Linked DNA regions of Homo sapiens. The protein of the gene in region 3 purifies or fractionates together with the protein of the main gene of each other region. This does not show direct contact. Each region holds a gene or a part of one and is shown on either strand. Other genes may lie near its edges. The genes, in order: ACSF3, NDRG2, TMEM70, TOP3A, CANT1, CHDH and HPN.

What was found.
Region 1: the proteins of TMEM70 (region 3) and ACSF3 purify together in Homo sapiens (affinity purification with mass spectrometry; 2 studies listed by BioGRID and IntAct, with this or other methods). This does not show direct contact.
Region 2: the proteins of TMEM70 (region 3) and NDRG2 purify together in Homo sapiens (co-immunoprecipitation; one large-scale study listed by IntAct). This does not show direct contact.
Region 4: the proteins of TMEM70 (region 3) and TOP3A purify together in Homo sapiens (affinity purification with mass spectrometry; 2 studies listed by BioGRID and IntAct, with this or other methods). This does not show direct contact.
Region 5: the proteins of TMEM70 (region 3) and CANT1 purify together in Homo sapiens (co-immunoprecipitation; one large-scale study listed by IntAct). This does not show direct contact.
Region 6: the proteins of TMEM70 (region 3) and CHDH purify together in Homo sapiens (affinity purification with mass spectrometry; 2 studies listed by BioGRID and IntAct, with this or other methods). This does not show direct contact.
Region 7: the proteins of TMEM70 (region 3) and HPN purify together in Homo sapiens (co-immunoprecipitation; one large-scale study listed by IntAct). This does not show direct contact.

What each region holds. Positions count from the first base shown.
Region 1 is NC_000016.10:89,110,852-89,114,351, reverse strand, and holds part of ACSF3 (malonate--CoA ligase ACSF3, mitochondrial isoform 1 precursor), read right to left. Parts: intron 2,261-3,500; coding exon 2,106-2,260; intron 14-2,105; coding exon 1-13. UniProt on the Homo sapiens protein: Catalyzes the initial reaction in intramitochondrial fatty acid synthesis, by activating malonate and methylmalonate, but not acetate, into their respective CoA thioester. May have some preference toward very-long-chain substrates.
Region 2 is NC_000014.9:21,022,262-21,026,518, forward strand, and holds the start of NDRG2 (protein NDRG2), read right to left. Parts: upstream 2,801-4,257; 5' UTR 1,769-2,800; exon of another isoform or gene 1,715-1,768; intron 1,247-1,714; exon of another isoform or gene 1,061-1,246; coding exon of another isoform or gene 1,055-1,060; coding exon 980-1,054; intron 645-979; coding exon 603-644; intron 237-602; coding exon 131-236; intron 1-130. UniProt on the Homo sapiens protein: Contributes to the regulation of the Wnt signaling pathway. Down-regulates CTNNB1-mediated transcriptional activation of target genes, such as CCND1, and may thereby act as tumor suppressor. May be involved in dendritic cell and neuron differentiation.
Region 3 is NC_000008.11:73,974,727-73,978,994, reverse strand, and holds the start of TMEM70 (transmembrane protein 70, mitochondrial), read right to left. Parts: upstream 2,801-4,268; 5' UTR 2,714-2,800; coding exon 2,504-2,713; intron 240-2,503; coding exon 134-239; coding exon of another isoform or gene 126-133; exon of another isoform or gene 120-125; intron 1-119. UniProt on the Homo sapiens protein: Scaffold protein that participates in the c-ring assembly of mitochondrial ATP synthase (F(1)F(0) ATP synthase or complex V) by facilitating the membrane insertion and oligomer formation of the subunit c/ATP5MC1 through its interaction.
Region 4 is NC_000017.11:18,283,995-18,287,494, reverse strand, and holds part of TOP3A (DNA topoisomerase 3-alpha), read left to right. Parts: intron 1-1,974; coding exon 1,975-2,088; intron 2,089-2,187; coding exon 2,188-2,353; intron 2,354-3,500. UniProt on the Homo sapiens protein: Releases the supercoiling and torsional tension of DNA introduced during the DNA replication and transcription by transiently cleaving and rejoining one strand of the DNA duplex.
Region 5 is NC_000017.11:78,992,765-78,996,264, reverse strand, and holds part of CANT1 (soluble calcium-activated nucleotidase 1), read left to right. Parts: intron 1-1,043; coding exon 1,044-1,247; intron 1,248-2,344; coding exon 2,345-2,715; 3' UTR 2,716-3,500.
Region 6 is NC_000003.12:53,818,920-53,822,419, forward strand, and holds part of CHDH (choline dehydrogenase, mitochondrial), read right to left. Parts: intron 2,858-3,500; coding exon 2,728-2,857; intron 1,690-2,727; coding exon 1,555-1,689; intron 756-1,554; coding exon 613-755; intron 122-612; coding exon 19-121; intron 1-18.
Region 7 is NC_000019.10:35,058,721-35,062,220, reverse strand, and holds part of HPN (serine protease hepsin precursor), read right to left. Parts: intron 3,163-3,500; exon of another isoform or gene 2,549-3,162; coding exon 2,419-2,548; intron 2,348-2,418; coding exon 2,225-2,347; intron 2,093-2,224; coding exon 2,052-2,092; intron 1,875-2,051; coding exon 1,709-1,874; intron 1,595-1,708; coding exon 1,404-1,594; intron 1-1,403. UniProt on the Homo sapiens protein: Serine protease that cleaves extracellular substrates, and contributes to the proteolytic processing of growth factors, such as HGF and MST1/HGFL. Plays a role in cell growth and maintenance of cell morphology.

The DNA.
Region 1 (3,500 bases), on a different chromosome or scaffold from region 3:
TGAGACCATCAGCCTACGCGGCACAACCAAAGGCAGGTTTAGCCCCTTGGGACGTGGCTCTCGCGTGCAAAGGTGGCAGGTTTAGCCCCTCAGGAGGCGGCCCTTGCTTGCAAAAGTGGCAGCTCCTTCACGAGTGCAGGAGCCCCAGGCCGTGGGTACAGCACCACTGTGCGACACCCGGGACCAACGCTGCAGTCTGCGCTACGGCGTGACTTTGTTTTTTGAAAACGATCTGTTGGGTGTATTTTAGAAGGAAGCAGGTCCAACAGCTAATGAGGGTAAACAATGTGCTTAGGGTCCGCGGTGTCCCCTGCAAAGTTCCTGCGCTGTTCACAACCACGCTCAAGAACAGCAGTGACCGTGCAGCTGCCGACCACGGAGCTGATCACGGGTGAACAGCCACGGCGCTGCAGGCTGCGGCCAGGCACATCCGGGGACTACAGCCGGCTCAGCTTGCAGGCTCTGCAGCAGAACGCGGACATGGGTGAATGGCCGCGGCACCCAAGGGGTGGGGCCGGGCACACCCAAGGGGCTCAGAACCACCCGCAGAACTGCAGCCATCTTGGCCCACAGGGTCAGCTCAGGCTTGGCAGGAGAACACGGGCCCTGAGAACTCCGAGTCCCCGCGCTCTCACACAGCATTTCCCGCAGCCTCACGGGCAGTAGGGAAGGCGCTTTTGTTTGCGGTCTGAGCGGAGTGGTCCCTGCTGCTGCCCCTGCTTTACGAGGAGGCACCACTGACAGGACCCCCGCTGGGAGATCCAGATGGCCGAGGTCTCATTGCCTCTGTCACCCCAGAAATCACCTGATCCTCTCCTTCACTGACCTCGTTCTTGCCCTTGGTTCCTTAGATTTGGTAAAACGTTGTGCTCACCCTGCTCAGCTTGGGGCCTGCCCAGCCCCAGGGTATCCCAGCAGTAGCAGCAGCAAAACCATGGGCTCCGGTGGCCTCACAGAAAAGGGGCAAGGGAACGGCAAAGAGAGCGAAGCGGTTCAGACATGTGCCTTGGACAACCCGGAATTCTCTCCAGGAACAAAGGTGCCGCTTCCCTGTGCACTTCCTGGGGACTGGGAGGAGCGCGCGGCAGCCACAGACACACACATCCCACTGGAAACTGGATGGCAGTGGAGCCTTCAGTTCCTGCAGTGCACCCTCCACGCCACCCCTCCCTCTCACAAAAAGAAAAAATACCCCACCCACGACTCTGCTGGAGGTGCGGGCCTGTGATGCGTGTGAAGACTCACTGAGCCACACGTGTGCGTTTCCAGTTAGTGAACCACACCTCAACAGCCACGAGGGAAAAGAAACGTTCCCACGCCTGCAGGTTCATGGGAGAGTGCAGAGCAAACACGCCCCTGGGTGGCCCAAAAGACCAGCTTGTCCTGGGAGGGAGGGGTTTATCCAGGGAGCTGGGAGGGGAGGAGCGGGGCTGAGAGGAAAAGCAGCAGAACGTGCCCCAGGCAGGAGGCCTCACAGGGCTGCCCACGAAGGCAGAGAGACTGCATAGGAGAGGCAGGCGCCGTGGGACATGTGGGCAGATGAAGCAGGAGCAAGCGGGTCAGCTCACTGTCCTCACCCTTGTCCTTCAGACGCCATGACAGAGAGAGAGAGAGACGGACAGGAGAGAGAGCAGACAGACAGACGGAGACAAAGACAGATGGAGAGATAGAGACAGATGGAGAGACAGGAGAGATAGAGAAAGAGAAGACGGAGAGACAGATGAAGAGCGATGGAGAGAGACAGAGAGAAGACAGAGATGGAGAGTCTGACAAGAGAGACAGAGAAGACAGATAGATGGAGAGATGGAGAGAGAGAGACAAAGAGAGACAGAGAGAGATAGAGAGACAGAGTGTGACAGAGAGAGCGATACAGAATCCAGGCAGCTATCGACGTGGAAGAGATTACAGATATACATACAGACGGGTAGAGAGAGAGAGAGACAGTTAGAGAGGTAGAGACGGAGACGGGTAGAGAGAGAGGGAACATTGAAAGGAAATGGAAAGCACTGCTTCCCAGAACTTAGTAGGAGTGATTTATTAGAAATAAGTCGTATCTGTTGATCTTTAAGACTTTCTGAACGAGAAAGTGGGCTCTTTTCACTTACCTAATTTTTTCTTCACAAACTGCACGCAAGAAATCCTGGGCGTGCGGCTGGGTAAAATGCCTGTCGTAGTACTCCATCAGCTTGGTGTATATTGTAGGCACTGCCATAAAGACATTGATCCGCGGCGTTTCAGAACTTAAGAACTTTTCCCAAACCTACGAAGGAAAGGAAGCACTCGGTAGGAAGATGAGCAGGCACTGGGGCCCGTGGCGGAGGCTCCTGGCTCCAGGCACAGCGTTCTCATGGTTCACATTCAAGAGTCTGCAGCGCCTCCCTTCTAAAAGGGGTGCCTCAAACTCTGACCCCTTCCCACAGAAGCCATGTTGCGCGGGACAGCTGCGTCTGGCCTGTGAGGGGAAGAGCAATCGTGAACAGAGCTAGAAAAGGGCTTCGGGATCTGTGGCCTGGAGAGACGTGAGTGGTCAGGCTCTTCCAGCTACACAGAGAGGGCGGATGTACACCTTGGGGAAGCTGGCAGGAGGGCCTGGCTGCCCGCAGACCTGAAGTCAGCATGCTTCCCAGTATGGACAGGCATGCAGTGACTAGCGAACGGGTGAAGTCTTTTATTTAAAAGAGTCATGTGAATTTTATATTTTACTCCATAATAAACATTTCTTGCTTACATATAAATACGTTTTAAGTTCCTCACTCGTTAGCGGGTTCTCGCGTCGCCCATAAAGCTTCAGGAAGAGCTGGTGAGCCGCATTCCTTCCATGGCCCTCTCTACCCGCGGTGTTCCACACGGAGCACCGAAGGGTGTGGCGGAGGGAGGAGGGCACTCTTCGTGCTGTGGGGTCAGCACCTAAGGGAGGCCCAGGACACACAGGACAGATCTCGCCCACACGGCGTTGAAACTGGGGTCGACGGATGCCGATGCCACAGTCCAGCCCCAGCCCATCTCATCTCCTCACTGGACTGCAGTGACGAGTGCCTCACCGCAGCTGCCTGGCAGAGAAAGGCAGGAATCTCCGGGGAAGAAATAATATCATTCTTTCAAAGACAAAGACTGGAACCCTTCAAAGTCACAAAGCATGTAAGGACACAAAGATGTGATCCCCAACTGAAGGGAAGAAGTCTCAGGAAATCCAAACGTCCGAATCACCAGACAAGGCCCTTCAAATCACTGCAATAAGCAGATTAAGGAATTTCAAAGAAAAGATGAACAACGTGGGGAAGATGGAGAATTGCAAAGAGAAGTGGAACTGCAAAAAATCATAAAACTGAAAAACACAAGATCCAAAATGAATTCATTCAATAGACCTAATAACAAACAAGACGCAGCAGAAAAGAGGAAAAAAGTCAGACACAGTCAACGGGGGTGATCTAGGCTGACCCACAGACGGGAAAGCAAAGACACAGGCGACCAGAGTGCGGGAGACAGCAGCACCGCGGAGC
Region 2 (4,257 bases), on a different chromosome or scaffold from region 3:
ATGCCACAGTCAGACCAGGAGAGAACTTCTCCTTCCCACACTGACCCCTCCCCTCCCTCTGGGTTTCATTTCTACCCTTCCCCCACAGCCTCTTCCCAGACAGGAGTGGGAGATGAATGAAGGTCCTTACAGTTGAGTCCCACATCGTGGTAGGTAAGGATCGCTGGGCGTTTGGGTTTGGGGGTGCCATAGACAGTGAAAGTGACAGAGCCGTATGGTGTCTCCACAGAGTGAGTCTGCAGGAAAACAGGGCACCAAGAGCTAGGCTCAGAGGAGACGAGGCCAGAAAAGGAGCAACACCAAGGTCAGGGAGCTGGGAGTGGGTGGGCAAGAGGGAAAAGGGAACAAAGAATTAAAAACAGGATCAGCAAGAATTGAGGAAAACATGATACCGGAAGATGAGTTTGAGGATAAGAAAGAATAATGAAGATTAGAGAGAGAAGAGGAGGGGAAGGAAGGAGAGGGGAGAGATAGGGAAGGGAAAGGACTAGAATAGAAGGAAAGAAAGCAAAGAGAGAAGAGAGGGCCAAGCAGAGGCCATCCTTCTACTGGGGAAGAGGACAGCCCCTCCTCCCACCTTGGGACTGCCCCCACACTGTTACCTGTCCCTGGTCCAGGAGGATTCGGGCAGCTAACTCAGCCTCCTGGAGAGACACACACGGATTCACACAGAAACACATGACCATGTGGCGTCCCAGATGGAGAGACAAACAGACAAAGAGAGGCAAGTAAAGACAGACCAACAAATGACCAAAGACAGAAAGAGATTGACAAAGAGAGACACGGAAAGGATGAAGGTTAGTGTAGTGACGAGACAAGGGCCTGACTCCCAATTATAGTGTATGGGGAGAGAGACTAGGGTAGTGGTGAAGCAGTGGTGTGAGTTAGAATAAGATCAGTACGCTTGGGAAGTTAGAAGGCAAGGGGGATGCTTAGAGGTCTGGAATTTGGGCATGGGAGTCAAACGGTCTCTAATAACCTTGGCCGCCTCAGGCGTCTGTCCTGGCAACAGTGGCTTCTCCTCTGTGATCTGCACCTCCTGCAGCTCCGCCATGGTGGCCTGGCAGGATGAGGAAATGAGACTGGGAAGTTGTCTCTACATCCCCACATCGCCTCAAACACCAGGCTTCCTCTCTCAGCACAGGAAGATGCAGGGAACAGAGGGACCCAGGGGTTGAAGACTACTCTAGAACACACAGAGGGCCTTTCCTGCCCCCAGCTCCGTTTCCAGGCTGATCGGTGGAAGCTTTGGAAGAGGAATCAGGACAGCCCTTCTCTTGATACTCACCATCCCCACTGCCACCCTCAACACCACACCTCCAGACCCCTCCCTCCTCTGCCCTGGACCAAAATACCAGGGTGGGGCAGAAGTGTAGCTCAGATTTCTCGGGCTATATTTAGGGGCCACCCCACACTCTCAGGTAGGGAGTGAAACTTGTAGCTCAGTGACTGAGTATTCTAAAGGACAGGGTACCAAAAGACGGGACTGTGAGAGTTCACAATTGACCATGACCTTCAATTAAAGCCCCAAAGTCGGCAGCTCAAAGGGGGCTAAAAATGACCAAAGCAACATGACCAATGGGGGAGGTGGGGAAAACAACATAAAAGGGACATCTGTCCAACCAACCCAATGCCTCCCTTCCTCCCAAGACCCTTCCTCCCAACTCTGAATAAACTCCGCAAGTTCAACATTAGTGGGTGAGGAGCAGAGCACCTGGACAGACCTGCACAGGAAGGAGCCTGCAGCCTGCGGGGTGGGGTCACTTACTGGGCTCCTATTGGCTGGATGCAGTGGGATTAGGGGTCAGGGTTCTCACTCCTTCTGACTCTGGGGTCTGAGAAAACACAGCAACGAGGTGAATGACATGGGAGACAGACCTGGGGTCTTTCAGGGACGGAAAGCCTCAGCCAAGACCCAGACTCCCAGGGTCATCAACCTCCTCGGGTCACTAACCCTCCCCAGTGTCTGTCTACCCCTAAGTCCAGAGAACACGTCCTCTCTAGGCTCGAGCCGGAATCAATATAGGCTACAAGGGCATCAGTTCAGGCTGCGCGGAGGAGAGAAGGAAGTGCTGATGTGGAGGTAAGAGGGTGGCCCTGTCAGAACCTCCGGATTCGAATCCCGGCTCTGCCACTCCCAGTGTGACCTTGCCCCAGTTAGTTACTACATTTGGCCTCAATTTTCTATCTGCAGGGGGACTAAACGCGGGGGAATAGGGGATCCCCAAAATTTTTGACAGCTCTCCAGTAAGAGGAGGGTAGCAGAGCATGGCTGTTTCCCTCCACAATTTAAAAACAAACACAAAGATTGGTGCCGTCGCTTCTCTCCTCTACTCAGTCTCCGTGTAGGTCCCACGAGTGGAGAAAGGGAGAGGAGAGCGGTCCCACAATCTTCTCCCGTTCTCCCCCGACGGCCCGCGAAGGCAAGCGCCATCGGGAAGGGATGGGTAGGACAGAGGAGACCGGCCGGGCCCAGCACCCGGAACCCGTCCCTACGAGTCCCTACGCAGCCCGTCCGCGTGGAGACTGACACCCTTGCGTGGCCGGTGCCAAGCGCCCCGGACCTTGCACACAACCTCGCGCGCACCCCAAACACGCCCTGCAGCTCTTGGAGCCTCAGCCTTTGTGCGCAGCAACCGAGCGCCCGCTCCGTGCTGGCCCTTTCCCCCGAGCCTCCAGCTCCAGGGGACGCGGATCAATCACACCGCCCGCCGGCCCGGCTGGCGCCTTCCAGGCCCTACGGCCCCTCGCCTGCCCCTCCCCCTACCTGCTGCCGCCGCGGCCGCTTCCACCTTCACTTGCCTTTGACTCGGGCCCGCCCCGGCTCGGGCTTCCCGCAGACCCGCCCCCGGCCCGCCCCAGCCCGCCCACGGGCGCTAGGCTCCCCGCAGACCCGCCCCAGACCCCCAGTAAACACGCCCCCCCTTTCACCCCGCCCAGACTGCCGCTCAGGAAAGGGTTGTGCTGGGGCCGGGGGGCGAGGGGCGGGCGGCTGGACGCTTCCAGGCTCTGCTCGGCTCACCAAAACATTCCACCACCCCCTCCCCGCATTGGGGCGGTGTGGGGAGTGCGGGGATCCCTCAGCCCTGAGAGGGATCCCTCGGCTGCCCTCAGCACCGCCCCATCCACGACCTGGATCTGCAATTGCACTCTGGCTCCTTCCTTCGCCCCCAGACTCAGTGGTGGGAACCGGTAGTGGGGAGACGAACCCGGGATACTGACACCCCACGAGTTCGACTCCCCCCGCCCGAACACAGAGAACTAGATTAAGAAAGGAGGAGGTGGGCGGGACCGCCGCTGAGGAGGCGGGGGTCTCGCCGGCTGGCAGGGGCAGGTGTGCTGGCGCCGAAAGGGGGCACGGGGGAACGTCGAGGGCGCAGGAGTTCCGACTCCCTCGTGCCCAGAGTCCTGGTACCTCTCCTCTCTTTGCTGCGTCCCGACGCCTGCTCTCCGGCTGCTCCGGGAGAAGTTGGACAACAAGGCGGGGAGGTGGGGGCGGGGAATGCGGGGGGCCGCTATAAATAGAGGGCGATCGCGGGCAGGCGGGGGGTGGGGAGAGGATGGCCAACAGGGACTCTGGGGTCAATGCCTCAAGGGGCGCGGGGGAGGGGCCGGGGACCCCCAGAGGCTCTGACTCCTGGGTAAACAGGCGCAGGGGCGGAGTTAACCCTGCGGGGGTGGAGTAGGGGCTTGGGGAGGACGCAGTGTCCTGGGCTGGGACCCAAGAGACCCTGTGGCTTCGCCGCTAACCCCTCCCAGTCCGGCCCAGAATAGGAGACCAGCTCAGGCCCGCTGAATCGCAATGCCCGGGGGATGGTCTCAGGGTCTGCCGCGTCCCTCTCGGTGCCCGAGTGGGTTTGCCACTGTAGACTTTACACACACACGCACACGCACACACACACACACACCCTGGAATGAGCTCTCCTTGTGCCCCTCGGAGGAAGGCTCCCTGGAATGAGTTAGTTGATTAAAAATGTGGCTTAAGGGAATTCGAAGTTGTTTAGGCAAAAGGAAACCTGACTGAATTTCTCCCCACCTGCCCCCCTTGTAGCTCCCCCAATCCCAGGATCATATCCACCCCAACCCCCTTCAGACTGGTTCCTGAGTTGCCATTTCGGGGGCTGGGCGCCAGGCCAGTCAGGAACAATGGCCAATGGAACTTGAGCTGCCAACTGCAACACCAGCACCGACTGCCCCCCCAAGACCCCCAAGTTTCCCTGCCCCCTCCTGCCTGGGAACCACCCTCCCACCACCACC
Region 3 (4,268 bases):
AAAAATGAAAATCTAATTTTCCTTACGTCTTGTAATTAAGGGATGCCATAACAACAAGTAAGATATGGTAAGGATATTTTTACAATTAAAAGAGAAAAAAACAAAGTAAGTACACCCACCTCCAATTACTTACCAAACACTGCTCGGGCCATATTGCCAGTATAAATTAGCCTTCCATCTTCTGATTTGTCAGATGGCGTATTTAAGAATCGAACATATCCTTCCCAATAAACAGGGATCTATTGAAACAGGGATCATTATGGTCAACTAACCTTCTTAAATTTTTTTAAGTTTTTTTTTTTGAGACAGAGTCTTGCTCTGTCTCCCAGACTGGAGGGCAGTGGTGCGATCTCAGCTCACCATTGCAACCTCTGCTTCCCGGGTTCAAGCAATTCTCCTGCCTCAGTCTCCTGAGTAGCTGGGATTACAGGTGCCCACCACCACACCCGGCTAATTTCTGTATTTTTATTAGAGACGGGGTTTCACCATGTTGGCCAGACTGGTCTTGAACTCTTGACCTCAAGTGATCTGCCACCTTGGCCTCCCAAAGTGCTGGGATTACAGGCATGAGCCACCATGCCCAGCTTAAGTTTATTTTTAAAATTGTAATGCAGGTGCAGTGGCTCATGCCTGTAATCCCAGCACTTTGGGAGGCCGAGGGGGGCGGATCACTTGAGGTCAGGAGTTCAAGACCAGCCTGGCCAACATGGTGAAACCCCGTCTCTACTAAAAATGCAAACAATTAGCCGGGCATGGTGTCTGGCGCCTGTAATCCAGCTACTCCGGAGGCTGAGGCAGAAGAATCGCTTGAACCTGGGAGGCGGAGATTGCAGTGGTCCGAGATCACACCACTGTACTCCAACCTGGGCAACAGAGCACGACTCCGTCTCAAAAAAATAAAATAAAATTGTAATGAAAAGAACTTGTCACATGAGGTGACATAAGGAATTCTCCCAAATAATCTACAGAGTTAAAGAAATAAATTGGCTGACAGAATGGCTTGCCTTAATTCTAGTCACAAGTAGAAAACTGCAGAGCTGGAGTTTGTTAGCTTAGCATCCCAGCTCTCAGGTTTCTAGGTCTAGTGTGACCTTGAACAAGTAAAAATAGTAACAGTTTCTTCTACTCCACTGTTAATGACGACATCATTTCCATTCTATTTAAATGCAACACCTTTTCAAAAAATAAATACATTTAGCTGGTGTAATGGAACACGTCTATAGCCCCAGCTACTGGGGAGGCTGAGGTGGATCACTTGAGCCCAGGAGTTTAAGGCCAGCCTGGGCAACATGGCAAGACCCCATCTCTAAGAAATAAAATTTAATTTTACTAAAATAATTTAAGTAAAATACTCCGCAAACTCACATTATATTTAAAGTCCAGGCCTTTTACAAATACTGCTAAAATATTTATATGATAGTATTAAAGAGATCAAATCTTTCTCTAAAGACCTTGTAAATACCGTGTATCCCCTGGTCCTCTTATTTCTTGACAAGAAATAAAATTTGGCTGGGCACAGCGGCTCACGCCTGTAATCCCAACCCTTTGACAGGCCGAGGCAGGAGGATGATTTGAGGTCAGGAGTTTAAGACGAGCCTGGCCAACACGGTGAAACCCCGTCTCTACTAAAAATACAAAAAAAAAATCAGCCGGGGTGTGGTGGAGCGCGCCTGTAATCCCAACTACTGGGGAGGCTGAGGCAGGAGAATCGCTTGAACCCGGAAGGCGGAGGTTGCAGTGAGCCAAGATCACGTCACTGCACTCCAACCAGGGTGACAGAGCGAGACTTCACCTCCAAAAAAAAAGAAATAAAATTTACTTGAAATCCTACATCAAATTTCAAGGGAACAGAAGCGTTCCCCATACATCTGAAAATGAGTTTCACAGTGTATACACTTCAAAATGTAAAAGGCATGCCTAATTCCTCAATGCTGAAATGTAATTAGATTCCAATTTCCATTTTAAGCATTTCTTCCAAGTTTTAACCAGGTTTGCCAATCCTGATATTTTACAGAGTAGAATTAGAAGACAATTTATTCAGATCAAAATAAAAGAATTAACATCTGCATCCCCCTTTTCCCAGGGACCAAAGTAATTCTTAAAAGTACAGCCACCTCATAAAAGTAGAACAAGCTCAAAGTCAGGTTAACCTGGCTCTTTCGGTTCTATTTCCAGGTGCTGCATCCAATTTTTTGCAAATTAACACTTCTAAGCTTCTACTCAAGGGCAGAAAAGGAACTACATATAGTTGTCACCACAAACCCTCTGGATTTGGAACTACCATAAAAGTAAGCACTTTCCAGCCGTTCTCCTGGACTCGCGGAGGCTGAGGACCCCGGGGCCCTCGGCCTGCTACTTCTGCAAGCCCCGCAGAGGGGGCTCCTCCCGCGCTCCAGCCACGGACACCTGGGAGAGGTCGCGAAGAGCCGCTGGGGCTCCCCAGGCCCGACACGACGCCCGCCCTCCCCGCCTCACTTGGGACACCAGACCTCGGACGCCCTACCTGCGCTCGACCCGGACGCCGGAGAAGGCGCGCGGCTCCCGAAGGCCCCGTACTCCAGCCGGCTACCGGCCCCGAAGGCCCGCTGCTGGAGGACGCCCGGGAGACAGAGGCCCGGGGACCTCGGAGCGCGGCGGCCGCACACAATGCAGTCCTCCTTCCGCAGAGAGGCAGTTCGACCGCCCACGGGCTGCCCAACGCCAGAAACAGCATCACGCGGGTGACGAGCGGCTGCGGACGCCCCAGCTGCACGAGTCCACGACTGCGAGACACGGCTTCCCACCCGACTGCCGCACAAGTGGCGCATGCCCAGCCCGGGACGCCTGACTGGCAGCTGGGCTGCCTGCGCGTGCGCAGAATCTGCCGCCCGCCTGCCGCCCGCCTGCCGCCCGCCTGCCGCCCGCCTGCCGCCCGCCTGCCGCCCGCCTGCCGCCCGCCTGCCGCCTTCCCGGCCGCGCGCGTTATCCGCCAGCTGAGCTGGGAGCCCGCCGCTCTGTCCTTGGCTCAGCGGCTCCTCCTTCCTAGAATTTTACCTTCTTTATAACAGTGTGGAGGGGCAGAGGGCTGTACGAGAATGACAATGCCCAGAAGCCAGGGTTAAATATTTTTTTTTCTCGTGGACGACATCACTAAAAACTGTTTCCTTTGCGGAAAATGATTCTAGCCTGTTGGCACAGAAGAAAGAATATACGATTTGAACAAAAATGAGTGATAACTTAATTGAATCATCGGGTTGGAGGAAAATAAATGGAATTGTTCATGTAATATTGATAGGTGTTACCAGATTTGTCTTCGGAAATCATTCACATCCATATACACATTGATTCATTACTTGTTAAAGAGGTACTGAATCTATTGCCAGGACTGAGCTAGGAGCAGAGGATACAAAATACTAGATTAAACTGGGAATCCACAGTGCTTAAACAGTGGAGGAAAATACCTGAAAATTGGCTAGAATATAATGTAATACAATTGAGACACCGCAATATACAAAATGTGGCTGGCCGTGGTGGCTTACACCTGTAATCCCAGCGCTTTGGGAGGTTTAGGCAGGAAGATCTCTTGAGGCCAGGAGTTTGAGACCAGCCTGAGCAATACAGGGAGACCCCGTCTCTACAAAAAAAAAAAAAAAAAAAAAACCTAAAACAAAAATAAGCCACACATGGTAAGTGTGTGCCTGTGGTCCCAGCTACCCAGGAGGCTGACATGGTAGGATTGCTTGAGCCCAAAGTCGAGGCTTCAGTGAGCCAAGACCACACTACTGCACTCCAGCCTGGACCACAAAGTGACACCGTGTCTCAAAAAAAAGAACAAACAAATGCCACAGAAGTACAAAGAAGAACATGATTAATTTTGCCTCAGAATGTCTTCAGACTGGCTTCACATTTAGCTCAGTCTTGAAGGATGAGCATCTTAGTAATAGAAACACACTTTTGTTTACCACTGCAGAACTATACATGTTTTTGATTTGACATGTTATTTGCACCGGAGAGGAACAAATTCATAGTCTAAAATAATGTGTGGCCAGGGGCGGGAGCTCACGCCTGCAATTCCAATACTACGTGGAGGCCCAGGTGAGAGGATCACTTGATTCCAGGAGTTTGAGACCAGCCTGGGCAACAAAGTGAGACCCTGTCTCTACAAAAAATTTTTAAATTAGCTGGGCATGGTGGCACCTGCCTGTAGTCCCAGCTACTTGGGAGGCTGAGGTGGAAGGATCACTTGAGCCCAAGAGGTTGAGGCTGCAGTGAGCCCTGATTGCACCACT
Region 4 (3,500 bases), on a different chromosome or scaffold from region 3:
GAGTGTAGTGGCACGATTTCAGCTCACTGCAACCTCCGCCTCCCAGGTTCAAGAGATTCTCCTGCCTCAGCCTCCTGAGTAGCTGGGACTACAGGTGCGCATCACTGGCTAATTTTTGTATTTTTAGTAGAGATGGGGTTTCACTGTTAGCTAAGCTGGTCTCGAATTCCTGACCTCAAATGATCCACCCGCCTCGGTCTCCCAAAGTGCTGGGATTATAGGCCTGAGCCACCATGCCCAGCCAGACTTTTTTGTTTTATGTAGGGACAGGGTCTTGCTATGTTGCCTAGTCTGGTCTTGAACTTGCACCCTCAAACTGTCCTCCTACCTCAACCTCCCAAAGTGTTGGGATTACAGGAGTGAGCCACTGCACCTGGCCAGATTTGCCTACTTTAGTTATTTCCTATAAAGAGCCAGGCACAGTGGCTCACACCTGTAATCCCAGCACTTTGGGAGGCCAAGGTGGGCCAATCACTTGAGGTCAGGAGTTCGAGACCAGCTTCACCAACATGGTGAAACACTTTCTCTACTAAAAATGAAAAAATTAGCTGGGCTTGGTGGCAGGCGCCTGTAATCCCAGCTACTCGGGAGGCTGAGGCAAGAGAATCACTTGAACCCGGAAGGCAGAGGTTGCAGTTGATGGACACTTGAGTTGTTTCTACTCTTTGGCTATTATAAATAATCCTGCTGTGAACAGTTTTGTACAAGGTTTTGTGTGGATATGTGTTTTCATTTCTCTTGGGTAGACTTAGGAGTGGGATTGCTGGTTTACTTGGTAACTCTACATTTAACATTTTTAGGAACCACCAAACTTTTCTGAAGTGGCTGTACCGTTTTTCATTTCCACCAGCAAGGCACTAGGATTCCAGTTTATCCACATCCTTACTAACACTTAGTATTATCTCTCTTTTTGATTTTGCCAGTAGGTCTGAACTGCTATTTCACTGGTTTTTTTGGTTGTTTTTTTGTTGTTATTGTTGAGGTGGAGTCTCGCTCTGTTGCCCAGGCTGGAATGCAGTGGCTCGATCTCCGCTCACTGCAGGCTCCGCCTCCCAGGTTCATGCCATTCTTCTGTGTCAGCCTCCTGAGTAGCTGGGACTACAGGTGCCCGCCACCACACCCGGCTAATTTTTTTTTTTTTTTTTTTGTATTTTTAGTAGAGACGGGGTTTCACCGTGTTAGCCAGGATGGTCTTGATCTCCTGACCTCGTGATCTGCCCGCTTCGGCTTCCCAAATTGCTGGGATTACAGGCGTGAGCCACCACGCCCAGCCCTTTTTTTTTTCTTTTTTTTTTTAAAGAGAGTCTCACTCCATCACCCAGGCTGGAGTGCAACGGTGCCATCTCAGCTCGTTGCAGCCTCTGTCTCCTGGGTTCAAGTGATTCTCCTGCCTCAGCCTCCTGAGCAGCTGGGACTACAGGTGCGTGCCGCCACACCCTGCTAATTTTTGTATTTTTGATAGAGACAGGGTTTCAGCATGTTGGCCAGGCTGGTCTCGAACTCCTGACCTCAGATGATCTGCCCACCTTGGCCTCCCAAAATGCTGGGATTACAGGCATAAGCCACTGCTCCCAGCCTTCACTGCAGTTTTAATTTGCATTTCCTTCATGGCAGAGCTACATTTTGAAAGGTCCCTTTGGCCACAGCTTAAAGAATGGTTAGGGTAGAGGAAGAGACTAGAAATAGGGACACAAGCTGCAAGTATGGCTTGGACACATGGGGAAGAGAATTTTTAAAAAGAGCTTTGAAGCTGGAATTGACAGCTTTCCTGAGTAATGGGATGTGAGGGAACAAGAGAGTTGAGGTTGCCATTGTGATTTCTTGAATGAGCTATATGGGAATGAAATGAAGGCATCTTACCTGCATAGGCTGTCCAGGCAAAGGAGGGATTCCGGGGTGAGCAAGGTGCCCATGCGCCACCCGGGTGGAGCTGTTGTCTGTATTACCTCAGAGTAACCAGCAAGTGGCTTCCAGGTACGGATGCCACTCATGCGGAGCACATCGAGACCATCAAAGCCCGGATGTACGTGGGCCTCACCCCAGACAAGCGGTTCCTCCCTGGGCACCTGGGCATGGGACTTGTGGAAGGTAAGGGAGGACAGAGCTTGCAGTGGGTAGTGGGTGGTGTCGCCCAAGTCCCTGAGGGTCTCAGGTGGGCCCTCACTGAGCTCGACTCTCTCCCTGCAGGTTATGATTCCATGGGCTATGAAATGTCTAAGCCTGACCTCCGGGCTGAACTGGAAGCTGATCTGAAGCTGATCTGTGATGGCAAAAAGGACAAATTTGTGGTTCTAAGGCAGCAAGTGCAGAAATACAAGCAGGTTTTCATTGAAGCGGTGGCTAAAGCAAAGAAGTAAGTCCTTAAAAGAAATACAGAGGGGTCTCACTATGTTGCCCAGGCTGGTCTTGAACTCCTGGCCTCAAGAGATCTTCCCACCTCAGCCTCCCAAAGTGTGGGGATTACAGGCGTGAGCCACCGCATCTGGGCCAGTCAGAGTTTATAACCCTGCCAGATTCATCCTCACCAGTGGCCTCCTGGCCTGGAGGTTTTCCACATACCCCTTTTCTTTGGACTTTCTTCTCTGGGTTCTTTTACAACTCTCCATAGAGCTTTGTCAGTATAGAAACAGTAATCGGAACAGTCTCCTTCAGTTATTCTGAACTATTGGCTTTAGAAATACCATTCTCTTGATTTTAATTATCTTTTTTTTTTCTGCTTTAATTACATGACACATTAATTATCTTGAGTTAGGCAACAAAGTCTTTTAAATCAGTAAACCCAAGTGCTGGAGTGTGATCCATTTGTTTTCTGGAGCATTTAGAGGTGGATATTTAGCAAGCAGCATGTGTGTATTTTGTTAGAAATGATGTGTTTTCTACCTGTGATATTATGATTTATAATAAGATATATATATTTGGACTTCATTTTCTGATACCCTTGGAATTTTTTAAGTGCTGTGTCTGTTGTATACAAATGAGATGACTAGTGGCCAAGGGCTCCTGGGTAGCCTTGGGATCGGTCTGGTTGTCAGGGAACCAACCCTGTGATTAGAAGGTTGGGACTTTGAGTCCCACCCCTACCTCAGGAAGAGCAGAGGGGCTGGAGGTTGAGTTGATCACACGTGGCCAGTGATTTGTCAATCATGCCTAAGTAATAAATCCTCCATAAAATCCCCAAACAAGGGTCAGGCACGGTGGCTCACGCCTGTAATCCCAGCACTTTGGGAGGCCGAGGCGGGTAGATCACAAGGTCAGGAGTTCAAGACCAGCCTGGCCAACACAGTGAAACCCCTTTCTCTGCTAAAAAAAAAAAAAAAAAATACAAAAATTAGCCAGGCATGGTGGTGCGTACCTGTAGTCCCAGCTACCTGGGAGGCTGAGGCAGGAGAACTGCTTGAACCCGGAAGGTGGAGGTTGCAATGAGCCGAGATTGCCCCACTGCAGTCCAGCTTGGGCAACAGAGTGAGACTTCTTCAACAACAACAAAAACAAATCAAACA
Region 5 (3,500 bases), on a different chromosome or scaffold from region 3:
CCACCGCAGGCTTTCTGAGGTCAAGGAGGAACTGCACTAAACAACGGCCCACACAGTTCATGGCCGGCCAGGCCCTCCCCACACCCGGTGATAAAATCTTCAGTGTTTGCCCAGGGCTGGGCAGGGGACGGACCTCACCTGAGGTATCAACTGAGGCGTTGGTCGCCTACTTCCTGCCTCGCACTTGTCAGGGTTTTAGGCAACCCTAGTGTAGTTCTGTCCTTCCCTTGGATAGGGAGGAAAGCGGGGTACAGGGAGCTCTGGGGTTGGGCTGTACTCAGGTCATCCGGGAGGGATGGAAGACCCTGGCATGGAGAATGTCTCATCGCACAAGCAGACCAGGAGACCGCAGGTCCCTCCAGGGCCCTGCAGAGAAGCTACTACAGTCTCGGGCAGTTCAGAGGGCACAGCTCCAGCTCTCAGGGGCAAGAAGCTGGCAAAATTTGGGGAAAGCAAACAGAAGTTAGAACACCAGGGTGTAGGGATGATAAGAATACACGGTAGAACACAGGCTCCCACACAGCCTGAACTGTGGCAGCCTTCAAAGTTAGGCTTATTTTAAATAAATCAGTTTAAAAAAAGCAAAAACAGCTTCTGAACAAATCCATTGAAAGGAAGACTGGGAGCCCCAGCACCAAGCCCCTCTCCGGCCACTGGAGTTAGAGTGATGCTCGGTGAGACCTCAGGTGTGGCCGAGGGCAGCACCCGCACTCCCCTGGGACACACGTGCCCCTTCAGAGTGCTGTCACTTTTCAGCTTTTCTAGCCTTTAAGGATAATCCTAAGGTTGGGGTTACAGCTTGAGGAGCGGGGAGTTGGGGATCAGAGGAGACTTGAGAGTGGTCACTGAACCTTCAGGAGCTGAGGGGAGGGCAGCCGGCCGGCCCTGGGCGGGAGCCAGGTGCGGGCCGGAGGGGAGGCAGGTGTGGAGCCGGGCGGGAGTCAGGTGCGGGGTCTAAGGACAGGTGCGGGGCCGGGTGGGAGCCAGGTGCAGGGGTGCGGCGGGAGCTGGGTGCGGGGCCTAAGGACACTCTGCTTGGCCAGGCTTCAAGGCCGAATGGCTGGCAGTGAAGGACGAGCGTCTGTACGTGGGCGGCCTGGGCAAGGAGTGGACGACCACTACGGGTGATGTGGTGAACGAGAACCCGGAGTGGGTGAAGGTGGTGGGCTACAAGGGCAGCGTGGACCACGAGAACTGGGTGTCCAACTACAACGCCCTGCGGGCTGCTGCCGGCATCCAGCCGCCAGGTAAGAGACGCCTGCCCCAGCCCACAGTGTGGCTTCCACAGCCCAGTCGCTGGGAACCTGCTTCCTCCTGCATTTGCCTCCAAAACCGTTTTTTATTTTAGACATAGTCTTGCTCTGTCACCCCGGTTAGAGTGCAGTGGCACGATCTCAGCTCACTGCAACCTCCACCTCCTGGGTTCAAACGATTTTTCTGCCTCAGCCTCCCCAGTAGCTGGGACTACAGGTGTGCACCACCACGCCCAGCTAATTGTATTTTTAGTGGAGACAGGGTTTCACCATGTTGCCCAGGATGGTCTCGAACTCCTGACTTCGGGTGATCTGGTGATCCACCTGCCTCGGCCTCCCAAAGTGCTGGCATTACGGGCGCGAGCCACCACACCCAGCCTCCAAGGCCGTTTCTTGCTTGATTTTAGTGATTTTGGTTGCCTCTGATGGTGGCTTCCCTCAGGCCAGTGGATTCTGGCGGCAAATGAGCTGTTTTCTCTTTCCTGCCCCACTCGCCCTGGCAGCTGGCCTCCTAGCATCCCAGCCTGTGGCCCGGTTGTCTGCACTGGTGGGTCAGGCCCTGTCCCTACCCCTGGCGCTGGGCCGTGGTGTTCCACACCAACATAGGGCCAGCAGCACTTTGGCCTCCCCCTAGTCAGGATGGAGTAGGCCTTAGGTGCCTGAGGTTCAGGAGGAAGTGACTGAGTCTGTGCCTGGGGCCCCAGACGCTGTCTCCTCTTCCTTGCAGCCTCAAGGCAGCCTCCCCGCCGATGCCTCCCCACATCCAATGGGGGTTTGTTCCCTTTCCTTGGGTTCCTCTGGATCAGCCCCGAGGAGGCTCCGATGAGCCCAAATCCCTGATGCAGCTCACAGGCAGCTCTCGGTGGAACGGGAGGAGGCTTCAAGGGAGCGGGTGCTGCAGGTTCCCTGCATGGGATAACCGAGAACACAGAACCTTCCAGAATCCTGGAGAGCAGGGAGGGGCGGGTTGCTGTGAGCTGGTGGGCCCTGGTGGTCGCAGCCCCTTGCCTGCTACTGCGCACGGCCTGATGGTGTGGGGCTGGGCACACCAGGCCGCATGCGTGTCTGACCCGCGGTCACCCGGTTCCCAGGCTACCTCATCCATGAGTCTGCCTGCTGGAGTGACACGCTGCAGCGCTGGTTCTTCCTGCCGCGCCGCGCCAGCCAGGAGCGCTACAGCGAGAAGGACGACGAGCGCAAGGGCGCCAACCTGCTGCTGAGCGCCTCCCCTGACTTCGGCGACATCGCTGTGAGCCACGTCGGGGCGGTGGTCCCCACTCACGGCTTCTCGTCCTTCAAGTTCATCCCCAACACCGACGACCAGATCATTGTGGCCCTCAAATCCGAGGAGGACAGCGGCAGAGTCGCCTCCTACATCATGGCCTTCACGCTGGACGGGCGCTTCCTGTTGCCGGAGACCAAGATCGGAAGCGTGAAATACGAAGGCATCGAGTTCATTTAACTCAAAACGGAAACACTGAGCAAGGCCATCAGGACTCAGCTTTTATAAAAACAAGAGGAGTGCACTTTTGTTTTGTTTTGTTCTTTTTGGAACTGTGCCTGGGTTGGAGGTCTGGACAGGGAGCCCAGTCCCGGGCCCCATAGTGGTGCGGGCACTGGACCCCCGGGCCCCACGGAGGCCGCGGTCTGAACTGCTTTCCATGCTGCCATCTGGTGGTGATTTCGGTCACTTCAGGCATTGACTCAAGGCCTGCCTAACTGGCTGGGTCGTTTCTTCCATCCGACCTCGTTTCTTTTCTTTCCTATGTTCTTTTGTTCAGTGAATATCCCTAGAGCTCCTACCATATGTCAGGCCCTATGCCTCACCCTGAGAACGCAGTGAGCATGAGGTGGACCTGTTTGCTGGGAACCCCAGGTCACCCCCTTTTCTTCCTACTCTGTGCCTGGAGCATCATGTCCACCCCTGCAGATCCTTGGAAAAGAAAATGTTTATGTTGCAGGGTATTGCATGGTCACGAGTGAGGGCAGGCCCCTGGGGACACATCTGCCCACAGCTGCACAGGCCAGGGCGCAGGCACATCTGTTGGTTCTCAGGCCTCAGATAAAACCATCTCCGCATCATATGGCCAGTGACCGCTTTCTCCCTTCAAGAAAATTCTGTGGCTGTGCAGTACTTTGAAGTTTTAATTATTAACCTGCTTTAATTAAAGCAGTTTCCTTTCTTATAAAGTGGAATCACCAAATCTTATCACACAGAGCACAGTCCTGTAGTTACCCAGCCCGCTC
Region 6 (3,500 bases), on a different chromosome or scaffold from region 3:
CACAGGTGGGTGAAGTACCTGTTGACAAGTAGTTGGGCTGGATCACAGGGTGGTCTTGGGGATTGGCACTTCTCAGTTTGAGCCAGCCCACACTCGTGCCCCGCATGGGCCCCACATGTACCTAGAAGAACACAGAGGAAGCAGTGACGGTCCCTCCATAGACATCCACAGTGACCTCTGTCAACCCTGGTTTACCTGTAGGGTGGGCCTCTGCTTCCAGAATCAGTGGGGAACAGATGCATGTTAGCATTTGCCCGCATGGTACCCACCTCCACGAGTGATTACAGACCACCTCAAGGAATCACTCTTTCATCCTGGCCTCATACTCCATGGCTCAAAGCTTTCAGAGGTGGTGATCCCAGAGCCAAGTCAGCCCCTCTGTTTGTCCCATTTCTGGTGCTCGGTACCTAGCCTGCATGAAACAGTCATACCATTGGCATGCACCACGCAGACTGACACGCTGGGCAGCTGGAAGGCAGGGGACAGGCCTCTGTGTCCCCCACTCTGCAGCCATATGGCACCAGGGAGAATGCTGCCTTGGAAGATGGGAGCATCTTCCTTCCTGGTGGGAAGGAGACATCCTGGGAAGCCGAGGCTCTTCCACCTGCTCACCTGGTAAGCCTCCTGCTGGGTGGGGACCCGCCCGTGGTCAATCACTTGGGATGGCAGGAAATGGAACTGGATGTCCGGGTGGGGGACCCCAGGCTGGCTGCGGATGAACCCACCTGTTTCCAGATGGGCAGTGGCTCCCTCCCCTGAGAAGCAGAAGAGGATGAGGCAGAAGAGCCAGTCAGGCCGTGGCAGGTGGGCCGGCTGCTCCTGGTTTCCCTCCTTTCTCCTGGCCGCTCCTCTTCCTTTTCCCGGACTCCACTCTAGTGCCTGGACCCAAGTCCTGTCCACATCTGTTCACCCCTCACAGGGGGCTCACCCAGCACCACACCATAAAATGTCAGCTATTTGCCAAAAGGATGGCATCAGCTCTGCTCTCTACCAGGGCCAATTCTGCCACTGCCCATGCCACCTGCCTTACCGGCTCTTCCCACTACCTAGCACAGCACACAGCACATACTAGGTGTGTGAGAAATACAGACTGAGTGGATGGGTAGGATTTTAAACTACCATTTCCTGGCCCAGGCACAGCTAGAAATCAAATGGAAAAGGTTGAAAGATGAATGCTGATTCTGCAGTCTAGCCCCAAAGTCTCCTCTCTCCACCTTTTCTCCTGGCTCCTTGGACCTCACCTGCTGTCCAGCACAAGGCCATCCCTGCTCATCCGTAAGGAGGAGCAGCCCCTAAGCCCCGAGGAGTCTCACCTCCAGCAGGCCCTGGGCCAAGCTCCTTGGCATGTGCTATTGTTTCTGGTCCTCGCTTCAACCTGTCAGGTTGAAACTGTGCATCCCCATTTTGAAGATGGAAAAACTGAGGCTCAGGGCTAAGGTAAATGGCATAGTTCCGCATCAAACCCAGTGGCCAGAACCCCTGTTCAGCTCCTCAGGAAGGAGGTCTCAATGCTTATAGGCAGTCTCCTCCCAGGTTACTGGTAAGCGTGCTCACCTGTGAATTTCCAGAGCCACTCCAGACCAATGCAGACCTTCCGCAGGGGCTTCTGTGCTGAATGGAGGGTGATAGGGCGGGTGCATGCCTGCTGAATGTAGATCTCCAGGTGGTCTTGCAGGTTCTGGCCAACCCCTGATACGGGAAGGAGTGGTTTAGAAAATGGCTACCAAGGGGGCTCAGCTGCTTCTCAATATCCCCCCGGTTTTGAAAAATTCTTTCCTATTCCCTTATCTTCTGGACCAGCTCCTGCTCAGTTCCCTGGTCTCAGCTTAAAGGCTGCCTCCCAGAGACACTATGTGTGCACTCCTGGCCAAGTCTGGCCTGCCTCGGATGCTGCCAAGGCCACCTGTCCTTGTCACTCACTCCTACGGCAGCCTCTGGGTGCCCCTTGTCAGCCCTGCTCAGCAGCCCCCTCTGTGAGGGCAGGGCCTACGCCTTCAGCAGGCACTGCTTGGTGAGCGGTTGCTGGATGGTGATGGCCAGAGGGGCAGACAGCAGCCCCACCCTCACGCCAGCGTGGGGAAGGAGGAAGCAGCCCTGTCGTGCTACACCGTCCTTGCATGAATTCATCCAAGCCTACTGGGACACTGGGCAGGTCAACATCATGAAGCAGCACTTCCCCGGGCCCCTCATGATGAAGCCTAAAGGCACAAAGGCCTAGCCCTCCCGGAGTGGGGTTATCAAGGAGGGCAAGAGACAGAGCCCGACCCTCAAGAGCATCAGAGACAGTTTATAAAACAAAGTTTACATCTTAACATGAAGAGCAGGCTCTGGAGCACGGAGCTGACCTCATTCATGCTCAGGGCAGCCAGCGAGTCCTGTGGATGGAAGGACGAGGCCTGGACCCCTCTCGCCATAGAGCTGCCCTGGTGACACGCCCATGCCCGACCCAGTGGGGCTTCAGGGCAGATACTCCCTGCTGCAGGGTGCCCTTCTCCAAATGAAATAGGGCAGCCGGAGGAGGGAGAAGGAAAACAATGCAAGACTCGGGGCCCAGGGATGACAGTGTCCAGTGAGGCCTGGGAAACCTTCGGGCTCTCGGGGACAATGTGATAGTTCCAAGGATCACTGACTGCCACCACCTCCCCACTTCATGCTAATAAGATACATACACTAAGCCTTTTGTTGAGCAGAGACAGCCTCTGGGGAGCAGTAAAGAAGGGGACTCACCAGGTAGGTGGCACACCACAGGGATGCCCAGTTTCTTGAGGTCATCAGCATTCCCGATGCCAGAGAGCATGAGCAGCTGTGGAGAGTTGATGGCACCTCCACTCAGAATCACCTCCTTGCTGGCATAAGCCTGGAAGAGGTCCAGCCAGGTCACTCCCTGAAAAGCCAGCTGTTCTCCTGACTCACAGACCAGCGCCCTACTCTAGCCAGCACCATGAGAACACAGCCTTGGGATGTAGAATCCTGTGGCACACCCGGGACAGGCCCCAGAGCTAAGGAGAGGAAACTCACTGAGTCACTACTTGAAAGCAACCAGCAGGTGCAACTACAGCTGGACAGTAGTGACAGCCTTAGAAACAGGAGGGGAGGGCTTACACGAGATAAATGAAAGCAGGCATTCAAGTGGGTGGTTTAGAGAGAGCAAGCGGTGAACCAGATCTACACATGAAGCTGCAAAACAATCAGACCCCCTGCCAACAACACAGAAATAGAGTACAATCACATTTATGGGTTTTAAAACCTCTAGTGTAAACCTATAGCTTTAAACCTATAGCTTTCTGTGACATCGGTGCCTTGAAATGGTGTGGAAGGTACTGGGGGAGAGCTCTGAATTAGGCATGGCACACAGGGGCACTGACACCATAGGCCCTTTCTCGGTGGCAGGACTAGGGGCTTCTTCACCTCCACCAGCCCACTGCCATCAGCTACTCGCCCCTCCCCCCGCCATCACAGGGATGAGCACGTGGGTCTGGGGGTGAGGGCGTGACTCCTGC
Region 7 (3,500 bases), on a different chromosome or scaffold from region 3:
CAATCTCCCATCCCCACCTCCCACCCTGCCACCATCAATCAACTTTCTATCTCTACCGATGTGCCTATTCTAGACATTTCTTTTCTTTCTTTCCTTTTCTTTTCTTCTTTTCTTCCTTCCTTCCTTTCTTTTCTTTCTCTTTCTTTCTTTCTTCTTTTTTTAACAGACAAGGTTTTGCTCTGTTACCCAGGCTGGAGTACAGTGGCACAATCCTAGCCCACTGCAGCCTCAAACTCCTGGGCTCAAGTGATCCTCCTGCCTTAGCCTCCTGAGTAACTGGAACTACAGGTATCCGTCACCACACCTAGCTCATTTTTTTAAGTGATGGGGTCTTGCTATGTTGCCCAGGCTGGTCTTAAACTCCTGAGCACAAACAATCCTCCCATCTCAGCTGCCCAGAGTGCCAGGATTACAGGCGTGAGCCACCGTGCCCAGCCTTGTACATTTCATACAAGTGGCATCCTACAGTATGTGGCCTTTGCGGCTGGCTTGTCTCATTCAGCACTGTTCTCAAGTTTCATCCTTGTGGTAGCATGAATCAGTACCTCATTCATTTCTATGGTCCAATATTCTCCCGTTGTGTGGATATACCACATTTTTTTTGTTATTTATTTATTTATTTTCAAGATGACAGAGCCTTGCTCTGTCAGCCAGGCTGGAGTGCAGTGGTGTGATCTCGGCTCACTGCAATCTCCACCTCCCGGGTTCAAGAGATTCTCCTGCCTCATCCTCCCGAGTAGCTGGGATTACAGGCGTGTGCCACCACGCCAGGCTAATTTTTGTATTTTTAGTAGAGATGGAGTTTCACCATGTTGGCCAGGCTAATTTTTGTATTTTTAGTAGAGATGGAGTTTCACCATGTTGGCCAGGCTAATTTTTGTATTTTTAGTAGAGATGGAGTTTCACCATGTTGGCCAGGCTGGTTTCAAACTCCTGACCTCGTGATCCACCCACCTCGGCCTCCCAAAGTGCTGGGATTACAGGCATGAGCCACCGCGCCCGGTCAATATACCACATTTTCTTTATGCATTTGTCCGATGAAACAGTCTTGGGCTGTTTCCATCTTTGGGCTATTATGAATAATGCTGCTATGAACACTGATGTACGAGTTTTGGTGCAGACACAGTTTCCATTTGTCTTAGGTATATACCTCCTGTCCTGGGAGTGGAAGTGTTGGGTCCAATGGTAACTTTATGTATACTTCTTGGGGAAATGCTGGCAAATTTTCCAAATTGGCTGCACTGATCATTGATAGTTAAGGCCCACTTTGTGCTCCCTCGAGATCATTCCCCTTATTGCCAAGGATGCCTGAGCCATAAGTTGATTGCCTTGTGCCCCTGGTCCCCTCCTCTGTCCTCCTGGCCTCGGGTCCTCAAGCCCCATGGCTCAGCCCTTAGACTTACCTGTGAGGGGCAGGGGACTGGAGAGGTGGACCAGGGCAATATCGTTGCTGTTCTCCTCGCTGTTGGGGTCCCGAAAGGGAAGATAGCCCCCGTGGTAGACCACAGCCTGCACCCCCAGCTGCAGACCGTGGGGAGAGGCCTGGGCCACGGCACCGGCAAACACTCGCCATCGGGACAGGACCCGGTTCCGCCTACCAGGGAAAGGGGTGGAGGGTGGCCACCTGCCTGGGCACAATCCGCCCTCCTCCCCACTGTCTCTCCGCTCCTCTGCCTCCCCATCATCAGCGCCATTGGGGGGCACTCACTCCGGGAAGCAGTGGGCGGCTGTCAGCACCCAGTCCCCGGAGAGCAGGGATCCCCCACAGAGGTGTGCTCCATCATAGCGAAGGCTGACTTGCCACGGCCACCGGCCCAAGCTGGTGTCCCGGCCTCCCACGATGCGGTCCACGGGCAGCTTCCTGCGGCCACAGTCTGTGGGACAAGGGTCAGCAGGGGGCGGCGACAGGGGACTGGAGCCCAGGTCCCCAGAGCCCAGGCTTGGCCCTGCCCTAGGGGGTCTGAAAGTACATGGCCCCATCCTGGGGAGCTTGAGGGGACGTGGCCTCCCCAAGGGCCTAAAGGAGAGGGTTCTGAGTTTTAGGATCTCACCTTGGCAGATGGCGGCCAAGAAACGGCCTCTGGGGCAATCACTGGGAGAGATGGGATTGGAGACACAGAAAGAAAGGAAATAGAGACCAGTTAAGACAGGTGGAAGGAAAACGGGGAGAGGGAGTGCCTTGGGGGTCTGAGGTGTTGCCCCACCTGCCCGCTGCCCTCCTCACCACACGGAGATGACCTCCAGCAGCCTCTGGGTGTGGGGCAGCCTCCCCTCGTCCACACAGAAGAAGCCCGACGTGCCATTGGCGCCCGCCGTTCGCACGTCCAGCTCGGAGTGGGTCAGTGCCCTGGGCGGGGCAGGGGTTAGGCCTGCTCCCCAGCCCCTCCCGGCTCCCACCCCTCCGAGGGCCCCCAGTACCTGAGGAAGCCCATCTCCTCGCAGCTGAGTCCGGCTACCCTGGCGTTGGAGCGCGAGGAGCACAGCAGCCGCCACGTCCCTTCCGTCTTGTCAAAGACCATGAGCCGAGCGTCCGCAGAGCTGACCTGCACTGCAGGGCGACAGGGCCCGGGGCCGCCTGGGTCCCACAGCCAGGCTCCCCACATGCTTCCCCAGCCGGAGCCCCTCCTGGCCTGTGCTCCAGCCATGTGGTGTAGACGTGAACCCCAGCCCATCGGAGGGTTGCAGCCCCCACATCTGCGATTGCATCTGGAATCATGACTCAAGGACTTTTTTTTTTTAAAGACAGGGTCTCGCTCTGTTGCCCAGGCTGGAGTGTAGTGGTGTGATCTTGGCTCACTGTAGCCTTGACCTCCCAGACTCAAGAAATCCTCCTACCTCAACCTCCTGAGTAGCTAGGACCACAGGCGTGCACCACCACACCTGACTAATTTTTTTGTTTGTTTGTTTTGTTTTGTTTTGTTTTGTAGAGACGGGTCTTGCTATGTTGCCCAGGCTGGTCTTGAACTCCTAGGCTCAAGCAATCTTCCTGCCTCTGCCTCCTAAAATGCTGGGATTACAGGTGGGATTACAGAGCACCATGGCACTCTGCCAGACTCAAGGACTCAGGTCGGACCAATCAACAGCAGCCTTGAGGCTGTGGCCGGCCCCTCCGCGAACCAGGGGAACTTCACTCTCCATTAGAAGTCCTAAGTTGGCTGCTCAGGAGCTGCAGGTCTGGAAGGTGACTTGGACATTCGGGAAGAAAAAAAACCATTTAACCAAGTTCCCAAGAGAATCCAGCACTTGAGGCTGGATCTGTTAAGGGTCATGTTCACCCTCTTGAGGGAAAAAGTGAGCTAACGTGGAGGAGAGTCAAGAGATTTCTGATAACATTTTATTTTATTATTGTATTTTTTGTGGAGAAACCGAAGCTCTTTATTAGTATGTTTGTCATTTGTCTTTTTCCATTTGTCTTTGGTCACACCCTTAACTCATATAAAAAGACCTCTCACTTTATACGTACACAGACAGCATATGGAAAATAGAAGAACAAATTTGTT